2 separate regions of the Homo sapiens genome follow, and region 1 is linked to region 2. Evidence: fine-mapped expression QTL. A gene starts in region 2. The other region holds a variant in brackets. All regions are shown on one strand. Distances are between the middles of the regions. Region 1 overlaps ATXN1 (ataxin 1). Region 2 holds the start of ATXN1 (ataxin 1).

Evidence for each region. PIP is the estimated chance that this variant, and not a neighbour inherited with it, causes the effect.
Region 1: its variant is the best candidate, but not a certain one, in a credible set for the expression of ATXN1 in whole blood (TOPMed, PIP 0.82).

The regions. Positions count from the first base shown.
Region 1 is chr6:16,347,670-16,352,184 of GRCh38, forward strand. All of the region lies in intron 6 of ATXN1 (ataxin 1), which reads right to left. Among named protein-coding and RNA genes, the nearest start is that of GMPR, 110 kb to the left of the region's middle. The variant C/T (reference allele first, on the strand shown) is at 1,798.
Region 2 is chr6:16,759,439-16,763,683 of GRCh38, forward strand. It overlaps ATXN1 (ataxin 1), which reads right to left and starts at 2,022. Exons shown (of 8, transcript NM_001128164.2): 1 at 1,860-2,022. ATXN1-AS1 (ATXN1 antisense RNA 1) reads left to right here and starts at 1,700. Exons shown (of 3, transcript NR_136240.1): 1 at 1,700-1,728; 2 at 2,681-2,841; 3 at 2,914-4,245. RefSeq lists silencers at 430-789, 800-1,279, 1,350-1,479, 1,956-2,115, 2,123-2,338 and 1 more and an enhancer at 2,476-3,675.

The DNA.
Region 1 (4,515 bases), 410 kb before region 2:
AATCTAGTGGGGCCCTGGAGAACCTTTGTGTCTAGCTCAGGGATTGTAAATGCACCAATCAGTACCCTGTCAAAACAGACCACTGGGCTCTCTGTAAAATGGACCAATCAGCAGAACATGGGTAGGGCCAGATAAGAGAATAAAAGCAGGCTGCCCGAGCCAGCAGTGGTAACCTTCTCCGATCCCTTTCCACACTGTGGAAGCTTTGTTCTTTTTGTCTTTGCAATAAATCTTGCTGCTGCTGTTCACTCTTTGGATCTATACTGCCTGTATGAGCTATAACACTCACCGGAAAGGTCTGCAGCTTCATTCCTGAAGCCAGTGAGACCATGAACCCACAGGGAGGAATGAACAACTCCAGACATGCCGCTTTAAGAACTGTAACACTCACCGCAAGGGTCCACGGCTTAATTCTTGAAGTCAGTGAGACCAAGAACGCACCTAATTCTGGACACAGTAGCACAACCATAGTTTACTGTAGCCTCGACCTCCCTGTGCTCAAGTGATCCTCAGCTTCCTTAGTAGCTGGGATTACAGACTTGTGCCGCCACATCTAGCTACATTTTAAACTTTTTTATTCAGATAGGGTTTCATCACGCTGTGCAGGCTGGTCTCAAACTCCTGGGCTTAAGCGATCCTCCCATTTTGGCTTTCCATAGTGTTAGAATTACAGATATGAGCCACAGCACCGGGCCCATTCAACTTTCTAAGCTTTGATTTCCTCTTTAAGAAAATGAAGATAGTATGGCGAGGCACGGTGGCTCACACATATAATCCCAGCACTTTCAGAGGCCGAGGGGGGGCAGATCATGTGAGATCCAGAGTTCGAGACCAGCCTGGTCAATGTGGCAAAGCCCCGTCTCTACTAAAAATACAAAAAAAATTAGCCGGGCTTGGTGGTGAGTGCCTGTAATTCCAGGGAGGCTGAGGCAGAAGAATCACTTGAACCCGCGAGGTGGAGGTTGCAGCGAACCAAGATTGTACCATTGCACTCTAGCCTGGGCGACAGGAGTGAAACTCTGCCTTAGAAAAAAAAAAATGAAGATAGTAATACGCCTTATTTCATGAAGTTGTTATGAGAATTGCATGGGACAATTCAGTGCCTAGCATGCAAGCAGGCAGTAGTGCCTCAAAAAATGCTACCTCTCATGATGAACTGCTTTCCAGTTCAAACTACCTCCTATGACTGCTGCAGCAAACAGCACAGGCCTGGGATCTAGGCCACCTGATTTGGAATCCTGGTGGCCTTACTCCTCAGCTGTGTATATCTGATGCAAGTTAATTAATTTCTCTGATCTAAGTACTAACCAGGCCTAACTAATTCATTTCTCTGTGCCTCAGTTTGCTCATCTCCAAAGTGGGAATAATACTAGTTCCTACCCCACAGGCTTGCTGTGAGTTCACACATAAGAAGAATTTAGATGAGGGCCTGGCGTACTCAAGACCTACAATTACTGGCTGTGGTTGTTCCGATTATTTTCTAAGAAAGGCCCTCTTCTCTACCTCCTTCACTGTGGTCCTATTTTCATCTGCATAAAAAAATCACATTTTCAGGCTGGGCATGGTGGCTCACGCCTGTAATCCCAGCACTTTGGGAGGCTGAGGCTGGTGGATCACGAGATGAAGAGATCGAGACCATCCTGGCCAACATGGTGACATCTTGTTTCTACTAAAAATACAAAAATTAGCTGGGCATGGTGGCACGTGCCTGTAGTTCCAGCTACTCGGGAGGCTGAGGCAGAAGAATCACTTGAACCCGGGAGGCAGAGGTTGCAGTGAGCTGAGATCATGCCACTG[C/T]ACTCCAGCCTGGTGACAGAGCGAGACTGTGTCTCAAAAAAGAAAGAAAGAAAAAAAAAAAACACATTTTCCTCCCTAGAATTCTTTCTCAGGTTACTTCCTGCATCATAGACACCAGTCAGCTCCAGCAAAGATGGTGAATGGAATAATCTCTCATTAAAAGTTTCCCTGCCTCACTTCCCTTCATGAGGCATTTCAAGTCTTACCGGTTCAGAAAGTTTACTAAGTCTCTAAAATTGTCTTCTTTTAGAAAATACTCCACACTAGTGCACTGATTTTTTTTTCCCCCTAAACTGGACCAAAGCCTTGTTTGCAGAACAAATGGTCAATTACATCTACATTCAAAAATAAAATTCAAATGTGCTCATGTTTTCAATTTAAGTATGTCTGTTGTTTGCTGTTTATTCCTTTGGTATAAATAGAAGCTTTCTGGCTTATTTGAACGCAGAACACATAGTACACTGTTTAGATACAATTATTCATTATAAATTAAATCAATGCTTTTCCTTTTTAGAATACCATGCCCTAACTAGAATCTCTACAACATTATAAAAACATAAAATATGACTAACGATTTAATTTAAGGCCCTAATTCCCAATGAAAGATAAATAATGCTGCTGTAGGCACCAATGACTGTAATCTAAACAGGCAATAAAATATTTAATGGACAAGCGGAAATGCAAAAAAAGTAAGGCAGTCTCCTGTTTACAACAAAGCTCATTTTCTATACTAGCACTGTGGACGTGGAAGATGCAGTTAACCTCTGTAAGCCTCAGTTTCCTCATCTGGAATATGTGAATGATGATAATACGTTTTCAAAAGATTGTTGAGATGAAATAAAAGCAACTATAATGCCTAGCATAAGAAAAAAAATCCAGGTGTGTTCTTCTTCCTGAACTTCAGTCTCAGCTCAAGAGTCTGTGAGGAATTTCCACTTGGATGCTTACCACCCCTCTCAAATCAGCATGCACTCCGGTTCCATATTTCTGCTAACGGTTTTGCACCATTTCTCCAAGCATAGGCCAGAGCCTGATATTTGATACCTCTCTCGCACTTCACTCCTATATCCAGCGACTCCCCTAATTGTGTCAGTCTTTCTTCAAAATGTCTCAACTCTTGGGGTGAAGCTTGAAGTCTCTCTTTTTCCCATATTTACTGTGTAGGAAAGAATTTGGCTTTGGCCAAAGACGGGTCTGCCCTTTGCCCTTGGCTCCTGGGAAATGATCTATGTGATATCTGATAGTGGTGTCCCTATTTGTGGGGAGGGAAGGATTTTCAGTCACAGCAAATCACCGAACCCAAGCCTTGGTTTCCTCATTTTAAAATGGGAATTGGCTGGGTGTGGTGGCTCACACCTGTAATCCCAGCACTTCAGGAGGCCGAGGCAGGAGGACTATGTGAGGCCAGGAATTCGAGACCAGCCTGGGTAACAAAGTGAGGCCTGTCTCTACAAAATAATAAAAAAATTTAGGCAGGTGTGGTGGTGCATGCTTGCAGTCCCAGCAACTTGGGAGGCTGAGGTGGGAGGATTGCTTGAGCCTAGCCTGGGAGATCAAAGCTGCATTGAGCTGAGATCGCGGCACTGCACTCCAACCTGGGAGACAGAACAAGACCCTGTCTCAAAAAATAAAGAAAATGGAGATAATAACACGTACCCTACAGGGTTAGGGTGATGACTAAATGAGATGCATTCAACAAATGTGAGGTAGAAAAAACTTCTCTTATTCAGCAGGAACTTTATCAATGTTCATTTCTTTTTCTTTTATAATTATGAGAACATGAAGGAAATGGGCAGAGGATTCCAGCAGAATTCTGCCAAGATTTTCAGTCTTTTCCTGATTGGCAGCAGAGCATTTCCATTTTCATTTTGAGTTTTGCTGGTATTCTTCTACTAAGAAACCAATTTTTCCCCCAGTGAATGTTTTTTTAATTTCAGGGTTTTTTTTTTTTTTTGAAACAAGGTCTCACTCTGTCATACAGGCTGGAGTGCAGTGGCCCAATCTTGGCTCACTGTAGCTTCGACCTCCCAGGCTCAAGCCATCCACCCACCTCTGCCTCTTGAGTTGCTGGGACTACAGGCGCATGCCACCACGCCCAGCTAATTTTTGTAGTTTTTGTAGAGACGGGGTTTCACCATGTTGTCCAGGCTTGTCTTGAACTCTTGGGCTCAAGAGATCTGCCTGTCTCAGCCTCCCAAAGTGTTGGGATAACAGGCATGAGCTACCACACCCAGCCCATTCTTGAGTATGCTGGATCAATATTTCTCCTTGTAATGTAATTCCAACAGAAGGGAAACCAGGCCTCCTTTCAGTATCGCAGCTTGAGCCTGTCAGCATCCCCTGATTTCAGAACGTAGGCTACAAACAGTCCCAGATGTGTGCTGACGGTACTACATTCCTGGTCTTTCACAGCATTTACTTTGGATTGGGAAATGGGAAGTGAGGTCTCTCTTTCAGTATGAGATTATTTCTTAGAACAGGTTAGTTTGGCCTTTGCTAAAATATAAATAAGCAGAGGCTTCCATCAGAAAAACATCTGAGTGTTAAGTAGATAAATGCATCCCTTCAACATTGAGACATTTTATCTCCACATCTGATGCACTCTTATTTTTTCATCAGGACACGTTCCAGAAACTTGGATCTTTTTCCCTGCTATAGTTTCGCGAATAATATAGTTTGCTTCTATTTTGCTCTGGTTAACCCAAGGGATGGTGGGTG
Region 2 (4,245 bases):
CCCTACTGCACAGCATACGGTAAACAAAATAAAAATAGCTTGCCTTTCTTGTTAGCCACATCGCGCATTATATAACCAGCTTCTTCCGACTGTTTTTTTTTTTTTTTTTTTTTTTTTTTTGCCCTTACTACTCTTCAGCAATTTCCCTCTTCTCAAATATTTATATTACCCTTTTATCTGTAGGATTATATACCAAGAAAGCAAAACAAAACAGAGCAGCCACGGGCTCGAACCGAATCCCCGCCGTCCTTAGAAACGGATTTTTTTTTGTTTTGTTTTGTTTTCTGGCAGAGTCTCGATCACCACCCTACTTCCACCCCCACTAAGGTTCTTGCTCAATCTCCCTAGAAAACCTGAATTGTTTCATCCCTTTCAGTCAGCCCCCTACGTGGTCTGAAACAAAATGAAAGCACAAGCCACGGAGTTTAAGAAGGCAGCCTGAAGGCGGGGGGCTGAAGAGGGGTCGGGGCGCTGCAGAGTCAGCCAAGTAGCCAAGGAAGGGCCCCCTCCGCGTCGCGACGGCCCTCGCCCCCCGCCCGGCGCGCGCGCGCACAAATACACACACACAGTCACTCACACACTCACTCACACTCACGCCGCGCTCCGACACCGCCTCACCTCTCGCTCCGCCCGTCCGGCCCCCTTCCCTGCCCCCTGCGGGACCGGCCTGCGCGCAGCACTGGAACCACGTAGGAGGAGGCGGCGGCGCCCCCGGGAGTGGCAGAGTCTCCGGCCCGGCCCAGAGTGAACGAGCAGTGGGGCTCCAGGGCGCATCCCAATCCCCGCAGCGCCTCCTCCGCGGCGGCCGCCGCCTCCTCCTCCTTCCCCTCCTCCTGGCTTCATTCACCCTCCCAGCAGCCGCGCAGCCGTTCACTCCCGGCTCAGGGCAGCGCCTGCCGCGGCTCCTCGTCTCCTGCCGCGGGTGCTGGCGGGGGCGCCGGCCCGGACTGGGGCGCTCGCGGGCTCCCGGCTCCGGGCGGCGGCTGCCGCTGCACATGATCAGGAAGCGGCCGCACCAACAGGGCGGCGGTGGCGGCGGCGGCCAGGGCCGTCACCGCCACTCCAGCCGCGCTCCAGGCACCCGCACACCCGCTACCCCCGCGCGGTCCCCGAGGCCACCCCTCTGCGCCCCCCGCCCGGCACCCGGCCGCGCGCAAAGTCCCGTCCCGGCTGCAGGAGCAGTCCCTTCCCCGCCCGCAGCCGCACACCCGGCGAGGCCGGCCCTCCGAGGGGAGACCCCCGCCCCAGGGCGCCGAGGCCGGGCGACCACCCGCGGAGAAGTCCAGCCCTCCGTGAGACCCCCTCTCTCTCACCGCCCTCTCCGGGGAGGAGGAATGGGAAGAGGGCGGCCGGGAAAGGGACCACCCCCCAACCCCAGCCGCCGCCTCCCCCCTGCGCCACCCGGAGGGAGGAGGACATGGCTCTCCGCACTTGCGACCGGACCAGCAGCCGGGGGAGCGGGGCGCCGCCGCCGCTCTCCCCGCCCGCGCCCCCCGCCCGGGCGCGCCCCCTAGCCCGGCGGGCGCCCACCCAGCCCCTGACAGCCCCCCCGCCGGCCGCCCCTGCGCCCAGAGTGGGGGTGTCGGCCCGGGAGCCTGGAGCCGGGGACGGTTGTATGTACACACATACACACACACACACACACACACGCACACACACAGAACACGACGCGTCGATTTCCTTCGCTCCTCTTCCAGCTGTTTTCCGTGCAGCCGATTGGGGTTTTGGGTTTGTTTGCTGGTTGTTGCTTTTGCCCCTCTCGGGAGATCGGGGGAGGAGGGATTTTAATCTAAATAAGGGGAGAAGGGAATGGGGGAGGGGGGAAAGAATCGGAGGAGGAAAAAAAAATAGTCACTTACTGTAAAGTGTAAATGGATCTGGGGTTGCGTGGGGAAGGGGGGGCAGAGGGAGAGAAACAATGTCTTGCGGCTGCTGTTGCTCTGGCTGCTGCTCCACGGGGCTTGTTTTGGATCCCCCTGCAGTGAAACAGGTCCTGTACGGCTCCGCCACTGTAGTAGAAATGATGTCTGCGGTATACTCTGCTCTCTCCTCCTCCTCCTCCTCCTCCTCCTCCCCCTCCTCCCGCTCCCCTCCCCTCCCTCCTCCCTCCGCCCGCCCGCCCTCCCTCCCTCCCTCGCGCTCTCTCGCGCTCGCTCGCTCGCTCGCTCCAGTATGTAAATGTGTAATAGAAGCCAAATATGGAGCAGTTGGCTGCCGCCGCCGCAGCTCAAGGATCCGACTTCATGGGGGTGGGGGGCACCCTCTGGCGGGCGGCCCGGCGAGCCGCACAGAGCACGGCGAGCGCACCGCGCGGCGGCCGGCCCGCGCCCTTAACCCTTCGCTGCGCGCCGCCCGGGGAGGCGGGCACCTTTCCCAAAGAGTGGCTCGGGATGGGGTGCGGGGGAGGGGAGACGCGGACCGGAGGGCAAGGTTCCTTCCAGGTTTGGGAAGGGGGCGGGGAGCTGGGCGATGAGGTAATTTGAGCGGTGACGGGTCGGTCCTCGCGCGCCTCCCTGGGTCCCTGCACCTAGTTGGAGGGGACTGAACGACAACGGGGCGCTACTCAGGCAACCTGGGGGACTCCCCCAAGGGCTGTCAGGCTTCAGCTGGGAGCCGATGCAACACCCCAGCGGGGAGGGGAGGTCGGCCCATTCTAATCCCGACGTGTCCTTGGTCCCAGGCGCTCGGAGCAGCATCTGAGAGGGCTCACTCTGATCATCAGCTGCACGTTAAGCCACAAACCGGCGTCGCTTCGGCGTTCCGGAACCCAGGCCTGGGGGCCGCGGGGATTGCCTCTGCGTGCAACTCCGGAAAGTTTCAAGGGGTCCCCCGACTGCACAGGTACCCTCACCTTTCCTGCCGGCGAACGCTGGCGACCGCCCGACCCTGCCCTCTTTCTCTCTTCGCACGCAGGTCCGGAAATCGGCTTTGATATGGAACTACTCCGCTCTAGCCTGGAAAGGAGACCCGCGCACTCCTCTCGCAGCTAATTTCGGATCATTAATTTAATCGGAAATGAGGTAACCAGTGTAGGAGACAGAGAAAGCAACCGGAGCATCAAATGGCAGTTCTCGAGAATCGACGAGGAACTTAAATCTGGACTCAGGGTTTCAGTGCGGTCTCCGACTCCCACCACCCCGCCCCTCCGCCTGTCTCGCCGCCAGGTGTGACCTCCACGCGAAGGAATCTTCTTCGGATGGGTGCACCTTGCCAACAGGTGTGGCACCTGGAGGACTAGGAGGCGCCTCCAGACTAAGGGCGCTCAGTGCGGCGTTCTTGTTGCAGATGATTCTGGAAGGCCGGTAGGTGTCGGGCGACATTTGACCTTCTTCAGGTGCTTAGAACTAAGTGTCTGGAAACATGATCCTTTCGCGTAAGTTTCTTTCTGAAAGCCACCAATCTTGACTGTAAGCTGTATTTGAGAGATCTTTTGGCTGAGTTTACTTATGACCTAACGGTTAGTCACCAACTGAGGCAGGGCACAGGATGACCAAAAAAAAAGTGTCAGTTTTTACACAACTCTGGCCTGCAAGAGCCTACGTGCTTCATAAATAAAAATAAACATACGAGCGAGGAAGGTGCAGAGCCCCGGAAATATTTTTTTCTCACATTTTTGAAATACCATGCACATATATGTGGCTATTTAAGTATAACTACTAGTGTTCACTCTTACTCATTTCTACAACTTTTTTTTTTCCATTTAAAAATCGATTATTGTTACGGTTTAAACCTCGGGTTGGTCTAAAGTGACATTGTTGGTCTCATTACAGCCTCTAGTGGACAGTTAACATCAGTTTCCTGAAAAGGCTCTGACTGGTTTTGTTTTCGTTGACAAGCTTTGTCAAGGTGAAGGTTAGTACGTAAGAGCATAACCGGGTAAAATGTCCCCTCACCCCTATCCTCACCCCCGCCCCCAACACCCTGCTTGGCAAAGACGACTTCAGAAAGGAGCAGAAGCTTGTTGGCTTTATATAGAAAAGACGTATGCTTTGTGCTGCAGGTATTATTATTACTGGACTGTGAATAAACAGAAAGCTTCTGCTATTCATTTCAGTTTCAGACAGCTTTCATAAAAACTAAATTCATCTCAAATATTTTTATAACAGAAAATATTGGTTGCCATGTTTTTGGCTTAACTGCGATGTTTTTATTCCAACTCATAATCTGCAAACTGTCCAATCCACCTCCACTCTATTTTTAGACATCTTACATTTAGATAATTTTCAGTTAAAAAAAAGCTAATAT